Homo sapiens: one gene and its partners. The protein of the gene in region 3 interacts with the protein of the main gene of each other region in a biochemical or structural test. Each region holds a gene or a part of one and is shown on either strand. Other genes may lie near its edges. The genes, in order: CSPG4, DCN, FGF2 and SDC3.

What was found.
Region 1: the proteins of FGF2 (region 3) and CSPG4 form a complex in vitro, tested with the Homo sapiens proteins (one study listed by BioGRID).
Region 2: the proteins of FGF2 (region 3) and DCN form a complex in vitro, tested with the Homo sapiens proteins (one study listed by IntAct).
Region 4: the proteins of FGF2 (region 3) and SDC3 form a complex in vitro, tested with the Homo sapiens proteins (one study listed by BioGRID).

Annotation. Positions count from the first base shown.
Region 1 is NC_000015.10:75,702,800-75,706,414, reverse strand, and holds part of CSPG4 (chondroitin sulfate proteoglycan 4 precursor), read left to right. Parts: intron 1-3,615. UniProt on the Homo sapiens protein: Proteoglycan playing a role in cell proliferation and migration which stimulates endothelial cells motility during microvascular morphogenesis. May also inhibit neurite outgrowth and growth cone collapse during axon regeneration.
Region 2 is NC_000012.12:91,139,973-91,142,504, forward strand, and holds the end of DCN (decorin isoform a preproprotein), read right to left. Parts: 3' UTR 512-2,532; downstream 1-511. UniProt on the Homo sapiens protein: May affect the rate of fibrils formation.
Region 3 is NC_000004.12:122,825,837-122,829,867, forward strand, and holds the start of FGF2 (fibroblast growth factor 2 isoform 18 kDa), read left to right. Parts: upstream 1-1,338; coding exon 1,339-1,516; intron 1,517-4,031. UniProt on the Homo sapiens protein: Acts as a ligand for FGFR1, FGFR2, FGFR3 and FGFR4. Also acts as an integrin ligand which is required for FGF2 signaling. Binds to integrin ITGAV:ITGB3.
Region 4 is NC_000001.11:30,877,745-30,881,359, forward strand, and holds part of SDC3 (syndecan-3), read right to left. Parts: intron 2,347-3,615; exon of another isoform or gene 1,197-2,346; coding exon of another isoform or gene 1,185-1,196; intron 997-1,184; coding exon 879-996; intron 1-878. UniProt on the Homo sapiens protein: Cell surface proteoglycan that may bear heparan sulfate. May have a role in the organization of cell shape by affecting the actin cytoskeleton, possibly by transferring signals from the cell surface in a sugar-dependent mechanism.

The DNA of each region.
Region 1 (3,615 bases), on a different chromosome or scaffold from region 3:
ACATACATACACTCACACATACACACTCACACACACGCAGTATTGCTCAGTAGGCAAGGAGAGTGTCCTGCCCCGAGCCAGCAGCCCCAGGGAAAACCCCCAAAATCAGGACACAGTGCCTCGTTCCCCCGCCAGGGCAGGCCCTCTGGCCTGGGCCAGTCCACTCTCTGGGGAGACAGAGGGGGCTGGGGAGAGGAGACGAACTTCCGTTCCCACCTAAGAGCAGCCCCTTCCCCCACCCACATTTCAGGAAGGGGCAGCTATAAATACCAGTGGGACCAGGACACTGATTCCCACGACACCCGCTTCTCCCTGCCCCTTCCCTGTGCACAGTTGCTGGGGCCAGACCAGCTCTCCTGCAGCTAGAGTCCAGCCAGGCAGGCCTGAGGCCTAGCCACACACACACAGAGACACAGACATACGCACACAGGCACACACAGACATAGATACACACAGACATACAGACACAGACACATGCACACAGACACACATACGCACACACACACGCACACAGACATATACACACAGGCACAGACACACACATATGCACACAGACACATACAGACACAGATACACACACACACTTTTACTTCCCACCCTGGTCAAGGAGGAGCAAATCACCCTTTTTGGGAGTCTGCGAGCAGCTGAGAGGGAGCCCCTCCCCTGCCCCTCAGCCCTGACCCAGGCCCCATCTCTCCCTCCTCTGAGTCCTGAGCTGTGGGAACCCACACAGGGAAGCAGGAGGCCAGGCACATGGTGGTGAAACACGGCATTAGAGAGCTCAGGTTGAATTCCAGCCCTGACGCTCTATGCATGACCTTGGGCAAGTGACTCTGTCTTTCTGAGCCTCAGTTTTCTCCTCTCTAAAATGGGGATAAATAATTCCAACCTCTTACGTGTTGTAAGGATTAAGCAAGACACTTTGCCTGGAATCAATGCTCGGTGGACATCTGCTCCTGAAGCTGCAGTCACTCTGCTATTAGCATCTTCTTCCCAGGGTGGAGTGGCCCGGCAACATGGGGACTTCTGCTTAGGAGTGTTTAAGGAAGATTCCGAGGCAAAGGCCTAGAGGAGGTGGCCCCGTGAGTCTGTGTGGGACTAAGTGACATGGAAAAGGAGAGGTGGGCTCTGGAGAGGGTATCAGCCAGCGGCTGCCTGCCAGCCCAGGACCCTTCAGAAGGTGGGAGGGGGTGGGGGTCTGCATCTCTGTGGCTAACTGGGCTGAGGCCCACACCCCTCTCTCAGTGCTAGAAGAAGTGGGGACAGCCCCTGCCTGGCCCTCCCCAGGGCCTGTTTCTCCCAAGCCTAACAGCCCCTAGGATGGGGCTCACTGGGCCGGGGCACAGCAGGAACCCCCTGTCCCCAGAGCAGGTGAGTGAGGAGAAGAGAATGAGCAGGCCCCAAGACCTTTTATGGGACGGGGACCCTAGAAGCCTGTCTTTTCCCTGCTCTCTACCAACCCCTCGCGAGTCCCTCTCTGGAGGTGGGGGCTGGAGGCCAGGGCCCAGGGACGTGGGACAGCTCACCTGCCAGAGTCACCATGGGGCTGTTACCACCACTCATGATATAAGCAGTGGTGGCTGCATCACGAGGAGCAGAAATCCGGACTGAGGGAGGGGACAGCCCTCTCCGCTCTGGGCTGCTAGGACCCCTCAGTGGTATGGGTGTATGTGAGCTCAGAGTAGGGGGAGGTGTGGGGAGGTGACTGAGGTGACTGCAGAGTGGGGTGCACAGCTCGGGGCAGGGACACTGGAGGGACCCCGGACAAGGGCAGGCCTGTGCCTGAGCCCTCAGGGCAAGATCCCATTGTGCAGGCCCCCACTGCCTTCACCCACGTAGAGGTGACTCTTCTCCACAGACCCCTGGACAGGGCCCGGCCAGGCCCCCCACCCACATGTTTTAATGGAATCCAGGTGGCTGCCCCTGGCCAAGGTTCCATCTCTGGGCATCTGGGGCCCGTGTGCTTCTGGCCACCCATCTGGAGCCTGGCTGAGCCCCTCCAGGGGTGGGTACTCAGACGGGGGCTGTCCCTCCAACCGTGGACAGCCCTGGGGCCAGCGAGATATTGTAGAGGCCTGAGCCAGCTGGCTGATGGTGCCACAGCCCTTGGGCTACCTGGCCCTGCTATGTGGCCTTGGGGAGACCCCTGGCCCTATCTGGGCCTCTGGGTGGAATCTTCAGTCTCCTAGGTCAGCTCTAAATTCTGAGCTTGAGCCTCTTGGGAACAGGACAGGGGCCTCTGCCTCTATCTAGAGAGAGCCAGCTGCTTGTCCTGGGCCAAGCAGCAAGGCAGGCTAGGCCTGGAATGGGGCTGAGAAGCAGCCCAGCCTGCCAGGACTCCCTGGCATTGGAAAGCCACTTTCCTAAGTTGGCATGGAGCCCTGGGGCTCCCCCCGGGATGAGAGCAGCGGCTCCTCTCCACCCCCGGCTCCCATCTTCCACCCCCTGGCCCCAGCCCCGCCCTGCCAAAAATAAACCCAGACCACCCCATCTTGTACCAGCCAGACCCACCCAGCCCCTCCAGAGCCAATTGAGTCACCACTCAGAGCTGCTCCTTTTTTAACTGTCTGAGTCACTGCTTGTGGCTCCATGACACATGCCCCAGGCTACGGTTACCCCACAGCCCCTACAAGCGCAGCCAAGGGAGGGGTCTGCGTAGAGGCTGGCAGCAGGTGTGAGTCCAGGCCATAGCCTTAGCTTGTGAGCCCTCCAGGCCTAGGGAACTCACTCCATAACAAGCCAGAGACCAGACCTGTCCCTCAAGGTCCCGGCCGTGCCCAAGACAGCCCTTGGGGATCTTGGTGACAAGGTCAATCTGGGCTCTGCCCCACCGCATTGCGTTGCCTCCAACAGGCCTGGGCCTTCCCCGTGGAGACTGCCGGGAACGGAGGGTCTCCAGCCCCTAGACCCTGGAGGCTGGGGGTGGGCGAGGCCACAGAGACGCCTGCTTCCTCCCTCCTCACCGGCTCCACCCGGACTCTGACCACGCTGCCTGGAGCACCATGAAGACTCTATGGGACGGAAGCCACACTTCAGTCTCCCCTCACGGCTTCTGTCTGCCCCTGCGCAGGGTCACCCGGGCTGCAGAGCACCCCCGATCTCTCAGTCCATCCCCCCATCCCGCTCTCTCCATCTCTCTGTCCTTTCCCACCCCTGGCTGTGGTTCCTCCATCTCTTTCTGTCTGTCTTTCCTACCCTGTCTCTCTGTCTGTCTGCCCATCTCTCCAGTCCTGCTCTGTTCTCCTTCCCTTCTCCTTTACCGGGTTCCACGGCAGTCAGAAGTGCTCCCTGCCGCCAGCACCCCACCCGTCCCCAGGGCCCTCTCTGCCTTCTCAGTAGACATAACAGACCCTCACCTCCTCCCATTCCCACAAGGGACTCTGGGCCCCAGGGACCAATCCTGAGAAATGTTCCGCTCCCCTCACCAGGTCCTCCCGTGCCCCAAAGTGCAGGCTACATCCTGTCCCAGGGAGTGTCAGGATCCCACAGGCACTTCCTTGGGGGTTGACAAAGGCGGGCAGGGGGGCCTGGGAATGGCCCCACCTCCCAGTCCATGCTAGAGCAGGGGCCTGTAAGCCTCAAACCCCATCCGTCTTCTGTCTGTGGCTGTGGCCT
Region 2 (2,532 bases), on a different chromosome or scaffold from region 3:
TTATATTTTTCACATATCTTTGTCAGACCAAGTGGCAATATGGGTGCTTTATAAAGTAGTCATCAATATAAACTTTTACAGAATTAGATGGAGTCATTTTATGCTGCAATTCCATGTAAAAATGGCCTTAGCTATAGAAGTTGTATGTGTTTTCATGATTTTCTAGTTAAACATGCTGGTATAGTGCCTGAGGCTCAATGAGACCTCCTGCAGTTTCAGGAATATGCTTTCTTTATGCTATAAGACTGTTTGTTTATAACTGTCAAACCACCAGCAAGTTATCAACTCACATTCAAAACAGGCACCAAGCCACACTTTTGTTAATGTGAATTCTTGAAGAAAACAGAAACTAGACTGTTTTTGTAAGTTTTAAACTCATAAGCCAAAACACAGGGATTTAAAAAAAAAAAAAAAAAAACAATGATTTCTTTCTCAAGAGGTTTTTTTCTTTCCTTGGTGGTGTTCAAGCAAGAACTGTTTTGGAAATGCTGACAGGATCATAGCAAAGGCATCCAGAGGGAAACATATAATATGTTTATTTATCTTAGAAACCACAGAACATTGCAAAAGGCCAAATTGGCCCTGTAAAATGTGTTGCTAACATGTACAGTATGATTGCTTAGTTTGGACAAAGTCAAGTCATTTCTGTGCTGATAAAGAAGGATCACAATCTATATTCCGGCATCTCTAGAATTTATGTCTACAGCTCAACCCTTTCCCTTGAGCTCCAAAATTCTAGATCTAAATCCTCCTTGACACCTCCATATGGAAGTTGAATATGCATCTCAAAAAGAACAGATTCAAAACCAGATATTTGATTCTCAGTTCTTCCAGCTCAACCTCCCAGTCATTACCATCTCAGTAAATGGTGACTTCATCCTTCCAGTGGCCCAGGCCAAAATTCCTGAAGTCATCTCTGTTTCTTTTCTTTCTCTCTCATGCCCCATCTGATCATTCAGCCATCCCTGGCCTCTCTACCATCAAAACAAACCCCATATTTTGATCCCTTCTCAACAATTTTTCTACTATTATCCAGGTCAAAGTCTTCATCATCTCTCACCTGATTATTGCACTAGCATCCGAAATATTCTCTCTTGGCCTATTCCTGTTACCTTACAGTCTATACACGCAAAGGGATCCTCTCAAAGACAGTTGAATCAAGTCACTCCTCTACCGAGACCCCTCTAATAGCTCTCTGTCTTACTCAGAGTAAAAGCTCATCTTTACAATGGCCTAAAAAGTCCTACAGGATGCGATTGTCATTACCTTTCTGACCTTGTATCATATATTATCTCTTCTTGCTCACTTTACTCTGCTCACGTTTGTCCTCTCTGCTCTTGTTGGAACGTGCCATGTATTTTCCAAATTCAGGGCCTCTTTTCTTGGCTTGCTCCCTTCAGTTCTTCATCTCCCTGCTCAAATGTCACTCCTGATAAGTCCTTTTTCCGACCATCCTATATAAAATAGCAAGTCTCACCCCCTTCACATCCCTTATTCCCCAGTTCTGCTTGACATTCCTCCACTTTAATTGTCATGTCCTGGAATGTCTCCTCCTGCTGCAACATCTGCTTCAGAGGGCAAGGCATTATGCACTGCTGTGTCTCTGCCACTAGAACACTGTCAAGCACACAGTAGGTTATTAATAAATATTGGCTGAAAAAATGAAGTAATATGTGCTAGTAGATATATCTGATCAAGACAAAAAAGTTGGATTATTTTGACATTTTTGAGTGTATTTTAAAATTGATTTGTGTTTCTATGCTTGTTCCTGATGGCCTGGAAGCATTCATTCAGCCCTCACAGTCACTGCAGAATGTGTGGCCTGGGAAGAGTCTCCTGATCTCCAATGCCTAAGTGATTGATGGCAGTCATAATACTCAGGAGGCAACTCACCCAGTCCTTTTCTGGTTATCTTATACTGGGGTAGGGTGTGCATATGCCCTTTCTTTTGGCTCAAAATTGTTCAACTTCTTTGAAGGTTGTTTTAGTTTCCTGAATGCGTATGCTTGTATATGGTTTTAATAAGTTTAGTGTTCTCCCTTTCTTGATTTTACTTTGTTTTCCACTATTATACTTTGTGGTGTGAAATTGACAGTCTGTCACAGACCTGTGATTTGAAATAATTGTGACAGATGGTGTGCTTGAATACATAAACAGATCCACTAGAAGGAATGTTTTAGCAATAAGTGTGGAAACTTAAAATTGAGCAGCAAAATCAAGAGTGAAATAACTGCAATGTCGACTCAGCAACCTCGAATGTCTGTGCTGCAGGAGAGTCTGAAGGACAGTGAAGTCTTGTGAAGAGTTGTTGTGTGTGTGAAGGGGCAGTCTTGGACTGGGACTGCCTGGAACATTGGATGAATGAGAAATGACTGTATAAAACATTTTTAGTTTACTTGAGGGATTAGGCAATTCTTCCTTCGTATAAAGATAAGATTATGATATCCTGCAGCTGCCTCTGCAATAAAATTGTGGAATAAACCAGTTTCTTGGAAAAGCATTATGGAGAACGGTAAAGGAATATAAAAAAGA
Region 3 (4,031 bases):
GCTGGCATCAGATTTGGCATCTCCCACACACTCAACATTATGTGTTGCACACAGTAGGTACTCAATACATGCAAGTTTTCTGAATAGATATTTTCCTAGTCATCTGTGGCACCTGCTATATCCTACTGAAAATTACCAAAATGCAATTAACTTCAATTTTACATTTGGGATTTACAGAAAATAACTCTCTCTCCAAGAAATGCATAACAATTTAGCTAGGGCAAATGCCAGGTCCGAGTTAAGACATTAATGCGCTTCGATCGCGATAAGGATTTATCCTTATCCCCATCCTCATCTTTCTGCGTCGTCTAATTCAAGATAGGTCAGTAAAGGAAACCTTTTCGTTTTAGCAACCCAATCTGCTCCCCTTCTCTGGCCTCTTTCTCTCCTTTTGTTGGTAGACGACTTCAGCCTCTGTCCTTTAATTTTAAAGTTTATGCCCCACTTGTACCCCTCGTCTTTTGGTGATTTAGAGATTTTCAAAGCCTGCTCTGACACAGACTCTTCCTTGGATTGCAACTTCTCTACTTTGGGGTGGAAACGGCTTCTCCGTTTTGAAACGCTAGCGGGGAAAAAATGGGGGAGAAAGTTGAGTTTAAACTTTTAAAAGTTGAGTCACGGCTGGTTGCGCAGCAAAAGCCCCGCAGTGTGGAGAAAGCCTAAACGTGGTTTGGGTGGTGCGGGGGTTGGGCGGGGGTGACTTTTGGGGGATAAGGGGCGGTGGAGCCCAGGGAATGCCAAAGCCCTGCCGCGGCCTCCGACGCGCGCCCCCCGCCCCTCGCCTCTCCCCCGCCCCCGACTGAGGCCGGGCTCCCCGCCGGACTGATGTCGCGCGCTTGCGTGTTGTGGCCGAACCGCCGAACTCAGAGGCCGGCCCCAGAAAACCCGAGCGAGTAGGGGGCGGCGCGCAGGAGGGAGGAGAACTGGGGGCGCGGGAGGCTGGTGGGTGTGGGGGGTGGAGATGTAGAAGATGTGACGCCGCGGCCCGGCGGGTGCCAGATTAGCGGACGCGGTGCCCGCGGTTGCAACGGGATCCCGGGCGCTGCAGCTTGGGAGGCGGCTCTCCCCAGGCGGCGTCCGCGGAGACACCCATCCGTGAACCCCAGGTCCCGGGCCGCCGGCTCGCCGCGCACCAGGGGCCGGCGGACAGAAGAGCGGCCGAGCGGCTCGAGGCTGGGGGACCGCGGGCGCGGCCGCGCGCTGCCGGGCGGGAGGCTGGGGGGCCGGGGCCGGGGCCGTGCCCCGGAGCGGGTCGGAGGCCGGGGCCGGGGCCGGGGGACGGCGGCTCCCCGCGCGGCTCCAGCGGCTCGGGGATCCCGGCCGGGCCCCGCAGGGACCATGGCAGCCGGGAGCATCACCACGCTGCCCGCCTTGCCCGAGGATGGCGGCAGCGGCGCCTTCCCGCCCGGCCACTTCAAGGACCCCAAGCGGCTGTACTGCAAAAACGGGGGCTTCTTCCTGCGCATCCACCCCGACGGCCGAGTTGACGGGGTCCGGGAGAAGAGCGACCCTCACAGTGAGTGCCGACCCGCTCTCTCCGCCTCATTTCCATTTCGTGGGTTCTCGCCCGCTCTCTCCCCTCCAGCCTGCACCCTCCTCCCGGATCTTCACTGCGACCCTAGCGCTCCGTGTGGTTTCTGGCCGCGCGGCCCTCGGCGGTTTCGGGTTCACCACTCACCCCCTCCTTTCCGGGCTGCGGCGTAGGCCCGGGTGTCCCCTGGGCTTTGGGGTGTGCCAATTTGCCCTGTAAACCAGTACCCCCGGCCCGGAGCCGCGGCGCGCCGGGGCCTCGCGGACTGGCTGTCTTCCCGCGGACAACCTGTCGCGTCGGGGATGCCCGCGGCCCCGCCATGCAGCTCTGGCCGCTTCTATCTGCTGCGTGCTGTCCCGGGGACAAAGACAGGAAGGACCGCAGCAGAACGAAACGGTCTTTACTGGAAAAACACCTTTCTAGAGTCCTGCCCTTAAATTCCGACTCGGGACGACCCGAGGCATATGGCACACTACTCTCACCCACTCTGTTTTATATTTTTCCGAATTGACGAAAGCTGAAAGAGCAAAAACAAAAACCAACCAGCCAACCAGCAAAAAATCCAGATGTTGTTAATAAAGTGCCATAGCTTTGTTTCAGTAGTGAAAAGAAGTGCAAACACTTTAATCTTCCACCTGCAGTGACTAGCTTTGAGACCTTGAGCCGACGCTTAACCCCAGAGCCGGTTTCCTCATCGCTCACGTGGGGCTAATATATTACTACCTTGCAGCAGGCTTGAGGATGAAATGAGAATTGCAGTTTTGCTTTCTGTAAGAAACAATGTTTGTGGTTCTAGAAAGAACACTGGCCTAAATAAGGAGTGCTTGGACTTTAGGGGATTCCCTAAGTCTGGAGTGGGGGCTGAAGATTTGCATTTCTAACATGTTCCCCGGGGATGCTGATCACATCACACTTTGAGAGCCACTGGTCTAGAGGAAAGAGAAAGAAAGGGGCATAAGATGAGCCGATTTACAACACTGATGGAATTTGAAGTGAGAGAAAGAGGACTAGAATATATTGTAACCTGTCCTCCTGTAAGTGTATGTAAACATGTGTTTTAAAAGCTGTGTGTTATGGCGTTCCTTCCTTTATGGGTTCCAGGTGGAGAATCTGATTCTCTCATTGCCTGAGAAAAGACCCACAGGGGTCCCAGCGCCACTCCCCTGTAGTTCTGCCTTTGTCTTGGGATGCTAATGGGATGTCATGAGGGGAGGTGGAGGGGGGCTGGAAGAGAAGAAAATTCTACAACCAAACGTGAATTGGCAGAAGAATGGGCAATACACTTTCATATGAGCTGAGTCTTTATTGCTTCCAAAATAGCAACCTGCAAGAGAGGCAAGTATTTAATTTTTTTCAGGCTTGCCATAATTTAAAAATTTTATCAATCACTTAATCCCGTAAAACTGAAAAGATGCTTGTAACCTATTAGATGGGTTAGTGCTAGTTCTCTATTCTGGTAACTTGAACTCATCTATTTCAAAAAATTATCTTTGTGATTGAAGTTTGTTCTGCAGTTGTCTGCTACGCCATCTCAGCTGACAAGGGCAAGGTGCTGTGTGTCCCAATTGGTTTTGTTCTTTCTAGTATCACAAATTATTTATTAAAAAGCATGTATTATGACCAGAAGACAGAAGAATTTCCCTTTAAATTAAATTAATATTTGGGGCTTCCCCTAATACTCTTTTTTTTTCAGACTCTATTAGTTGCTGAATCATTTTTTCTTTGAAGATTTTGATACCCGATTCGCCTTAGAATAAAACTATGTAGAGGTTAGCCAGTGGACATAATTTTGAATTGCATACCACATTACCACCGTTGTAAAAACAACCGTTAACTTTTTCTTCCTAACTGTGAGTTGGGTTTTCATTTTTGTAATCTTACTTTAACTCTGTGGTTCTCAAATGGGGACGATTTTGCCTCCCAGGGGACATTTGACAATGCCTGGAGACATTTTTGGTTGCTGTAACCTGGAAGGGTGCTACTGGCATCTGGCAGGTAGAGGCCGGGGATGCTGCTGAACATCCTACAATACACATTATAATACCCTCAACAAAAACATTTTTGACCCCAAATGTCACTAGTACTCAGGTTGAGAACTCTGCTAACTTTATAACTAGCTAAGGACAAGACATTAAAAGGGAAATGTAGAATAACTCATCCAGACTTGTGGAGACTACCAATTTTTTTAAAATTTTTTATTTCTATAGGGTTTTAGGGACCAGGTGGTAGTTGGTTACATGAGTAAGTTCTTTAGTGGTGATTTGTGAAATTTTGTTGCACCCATCACCCAAGCAGTATACACTGAATCCAGTTTGTAGTCCTGTCCCTCCCCAACTTCCCACCCTTTCTTCCCAAGTCCCCAAAGAGACTACTCTTTTTTTAAAGGATACCTGTACCAGGCAATAGACTGACAAGAATACAAATCTAAAAATGACAAATTTCATCTATTTCTATGTAGCCCAACCTGGACATAAATTTAAGTACAGTATATTATTTTCTC
Region 4 (3,615 bases), on a different chromosome or scaffold from region 3:
AAGCCACAGCCAGCTCCTGGGCTCGGAACCAGGCAGGAGGGAGGGGAGCCAGGGAACTTTGCGAATAGAGATGTGACCCAATATAAACGGGTTTTACAAAGATTAATTTGAAAGAGGCTCAAAGGACTTGGCTAAGGAGGGGAGACCAGAGGCGAGGGCTGTGGGGAGCCAGCTCTGTGGCGTGCAGACCCCGTACCATCTCCTCAGATGCCAGCCCGTGCCCTCACTGGGCCCAGTCTCAGCTGCCTTCTTTTTGCTACCATTTTGAGAGCTCCTCCTCTGTGCCAGACCCCAGCTTCCTATCCCAAACCCTCCTAGAGGCACTGAGAAGAAGTCGTATTTCTCACCATCCACAGGTGAAAATACAGGGATTCAGGGAGGGGGAGCACCGAGGGGCACACAGTTGCTACATGGCAGAGTGGGGTTCGCGGTGCCCTTCTCTCCCGAGATTCTGCTAGACCCAGCTGACCTGGCTCCCCTTCCCCAGGGCGGGGCCATCCCAGGCACCACTTGAAGCACCTGCCCTGTGTCATCACTGCCCTAACCCCACCATTGGCCACAGCTTATTGCACCTGACGGGACCACCGGAACCAAGCAAGGTCTGCAGAGAAAGCCACATAGCACACACAAAGATGCAGACGTGGGACCCTGGAGACCTGGACATTCTGGGCCCTGAGGTCCTCCCAGGTCTTGTTCTATCCCCAGAAGGATGTTCTGCCCTTCTTGTTCTGGGGATCCAGAGCAAGAAGAACTTGCCTGACCCAGGCAGTGAATGCCCCCTGCCTCACTGAAGCAAGCCCCCCGTGGGCTTCTCAGAGTTGAGGCTGGATACAGACTGGTCACTGCCCCCAGGCAGAGGTAGGGAGGGGGGTACTTACAGCCCGAGCCCGACCCCGAGTAGAGGTCATCCAGTTCATCATCGGGAAAGGAGTCATCATCCCCAGAGCCCTCCAGGTCCACGGGTCTCTCGAAGTTCTCACTGCGCCAGCGCTGGGCCTAGGGAAGGTAGAGGTGGACACAGGGCTCGGCACCCGAGACTGGCAGCCTGGGTGAGCCCAGAAGGGCGACAGGTGCCCTTGTGGGCTGAGTGACATCCACGTGGGTGACAGAGATCTTGTGTGTACCCTGAAGGAAAGTGCGTGTGTGAATAATTCACAGGGCAGGGGTGGGGTGTGGCAAGTCACCTGGGGTCCCATCCCAGAAGGCTTTCAGTGTCTGGCTGATGACTTTCTCTTAGAAACTGGTCATTTTTCATCTTGACTGCACATCTGAATATTGTGAAAACTAAATTCAGTGGTTCAGTAGGTCTGGGGTGGTCTCTGAGCAGCCGCAATGTTGGGCTGGCTGTGGGGAGCCCTGGGGCATGTGTGAGCAGGCGAGGGCTGGAATGGCCCTGCATTTGGGGCCCAGCCTCTCACCCCCTGCCACTGATGGGCCCCCTTCTGGAGTTGATACAGAGCCAGAGTGAGGATCTCAATCCTGTCTTCATATCCCCAGCCTCAACCACCTGCTCCAGAGCCCTGCCCAGCCCAGCCAGGGCAGGGAGCCAGGAGGTGCCCCCTCACAAAATGCACACACACACATAGTCTCAAAGTAATGAATTAATCAGTATTTACTTTCTACCAGTGAGTCATGGAGTGGAACAATTAGTGTAATTTCTCCCGTGACGAATTGCTGGGTCTTCCTCCTTTTTTAAACATTCTAGGAGCTCAGAGCAGTAGGGCCCAACTTTTCCCCAGCTCCCCTCTGCCCAGAAAGAAAAATACCCACGGTGGAGGAGCTAGAACTCCCCATGGCACTCCCCTCCACAACCTGAACCAGCCAACCTGGAGTCCCTGCTCCCTCCAGCTCTCTGGCAAGCAGCCTGAAGTCACACAGAAGAATGGGGACTGAGCAGGGACCCAGGCTCCGGCTCCTGCCCCTGCCCAGGGCTGTCTTCACTGTCTTTCTATCCTTCCCAGTAGGCTGGGCAGTGGCTGGGAGGCCTTTAGCTGGGAGGAGGGATACTAAGAGGTCTGTGGTCCCTGGAAGCCCCCAACTGAAGTAAATGTGGGTGCCAAAACAAGGGAGTCCCCAAGATTCCTCAGTGACCAGTGCCACTTAGCCCCTAACTTCCTGCTCCAAGAAAAGCCTGTACAAACCCAAAGACCTACCCCCATGCCACATAGACCCTTGAAATGACACACCCCAGAGACACAGCACATGCACAGACACACACTGAAACATGCTCACCTAAAAGCAGCCACAGAGGGCTCAGCGTGTCAGCATGCCTGGGGGTAAAAACAGCCACTCACATGGGGCAGGAGGAGCTGGGCCTGCTGTGCAGCTCTGAGCTCAGAGACAAGCATCGAGCCTCCTGGAAACCCATCAGCCTCCACTCAGGTAGCGCTCACCTACATACTATTCATCCCCAGCTCAGTAGCCATCGACATGACAACCGTTACCATGACGACCATCTTCTCCATGCTAACGACCAGGAGCTGCAGCTCCCCACAGAGATGGGGTGGTACAGGAGAGGGAGAGATCACGGGGGAACTGAGAGGATGACAGGGAAGGGGGAGGCAGAGACAGAGACGGTGACAGAGAGTCGAGGACTGAGGGAGGCCAGGGGGCAGAGGGGCAGAGACGGGGAGGGTGGGCTGGGGGTACGAGAGAAGGAGAGAAGGCAAGGGTGGGAGGCAGAGGGGAGAACTCACACATCCTAATTTAGCCTCATGCTGATGAGGCAAGGCTGGGGAAGGGGCCACCTCAGTAATTTTCCAAACCTGCTTCCAAGAGTACATTCTTTCCGAACAGCAAGCATCCCCAATGGCAGGGTGTGCAGGGGGAGGAACGGCCCAGTCACCCCTGAGCCCACCTGGGATGCTCAGCGGGAACTTAATGCGAGGACACCTGGGACCTGCAGGCATGGGCGCTGGGACTCATGAGGCCCTCTCAGGAACACTACAGAGGGGGTGCTGGTAGCTGCAACTCCCAGAGGGGACAGAGAAATAGGGGTTGGGGAACGGAGCCTGGGAGGCAGCAGGGAAAGCCTTAGAAGTCACAGAATGCCTGAGGAGGAGGGTGACAAGCAGGCTTTGACCCCCAAACGACCTCCGCATTTGCATAATCCATCATAATAAGCATAATTATCCATGCCATTCCCTTAAAGGAGAACTGAATCCAAAAGCCCCAGGACGCTGCCAGCTTCTCCTTGACCCTCACTGTGCCCCCTCCAGGTAAACACAACCCCCCCATGCCTGATAGGAGGCTTCCATACCCCCAAGACACGCGCGCACGCATGCACACACACACACACACACACACACACGACAGCCCAACATCCTCATGCATATATATTCTTCTGCATGTACTATGCACCCCAATGGATACACACACACACTATTAAGTGCAATGTTTGCCCACACCAATCTGTATACTCACCACAGCCTATAGGCAATACAGCCCAGCCCACACCAGCACACACTCACCCATCTACTTCACCCCTAGCTGCCTGTACACATGCCCTAGGGTACTCACAGACACACACACACACTCCTCTCCTCACCACACACCCCACGGATGCCCCCGAGAAACCTCAGCACATTCTCCTGACCCCACGCACCACACTCACCT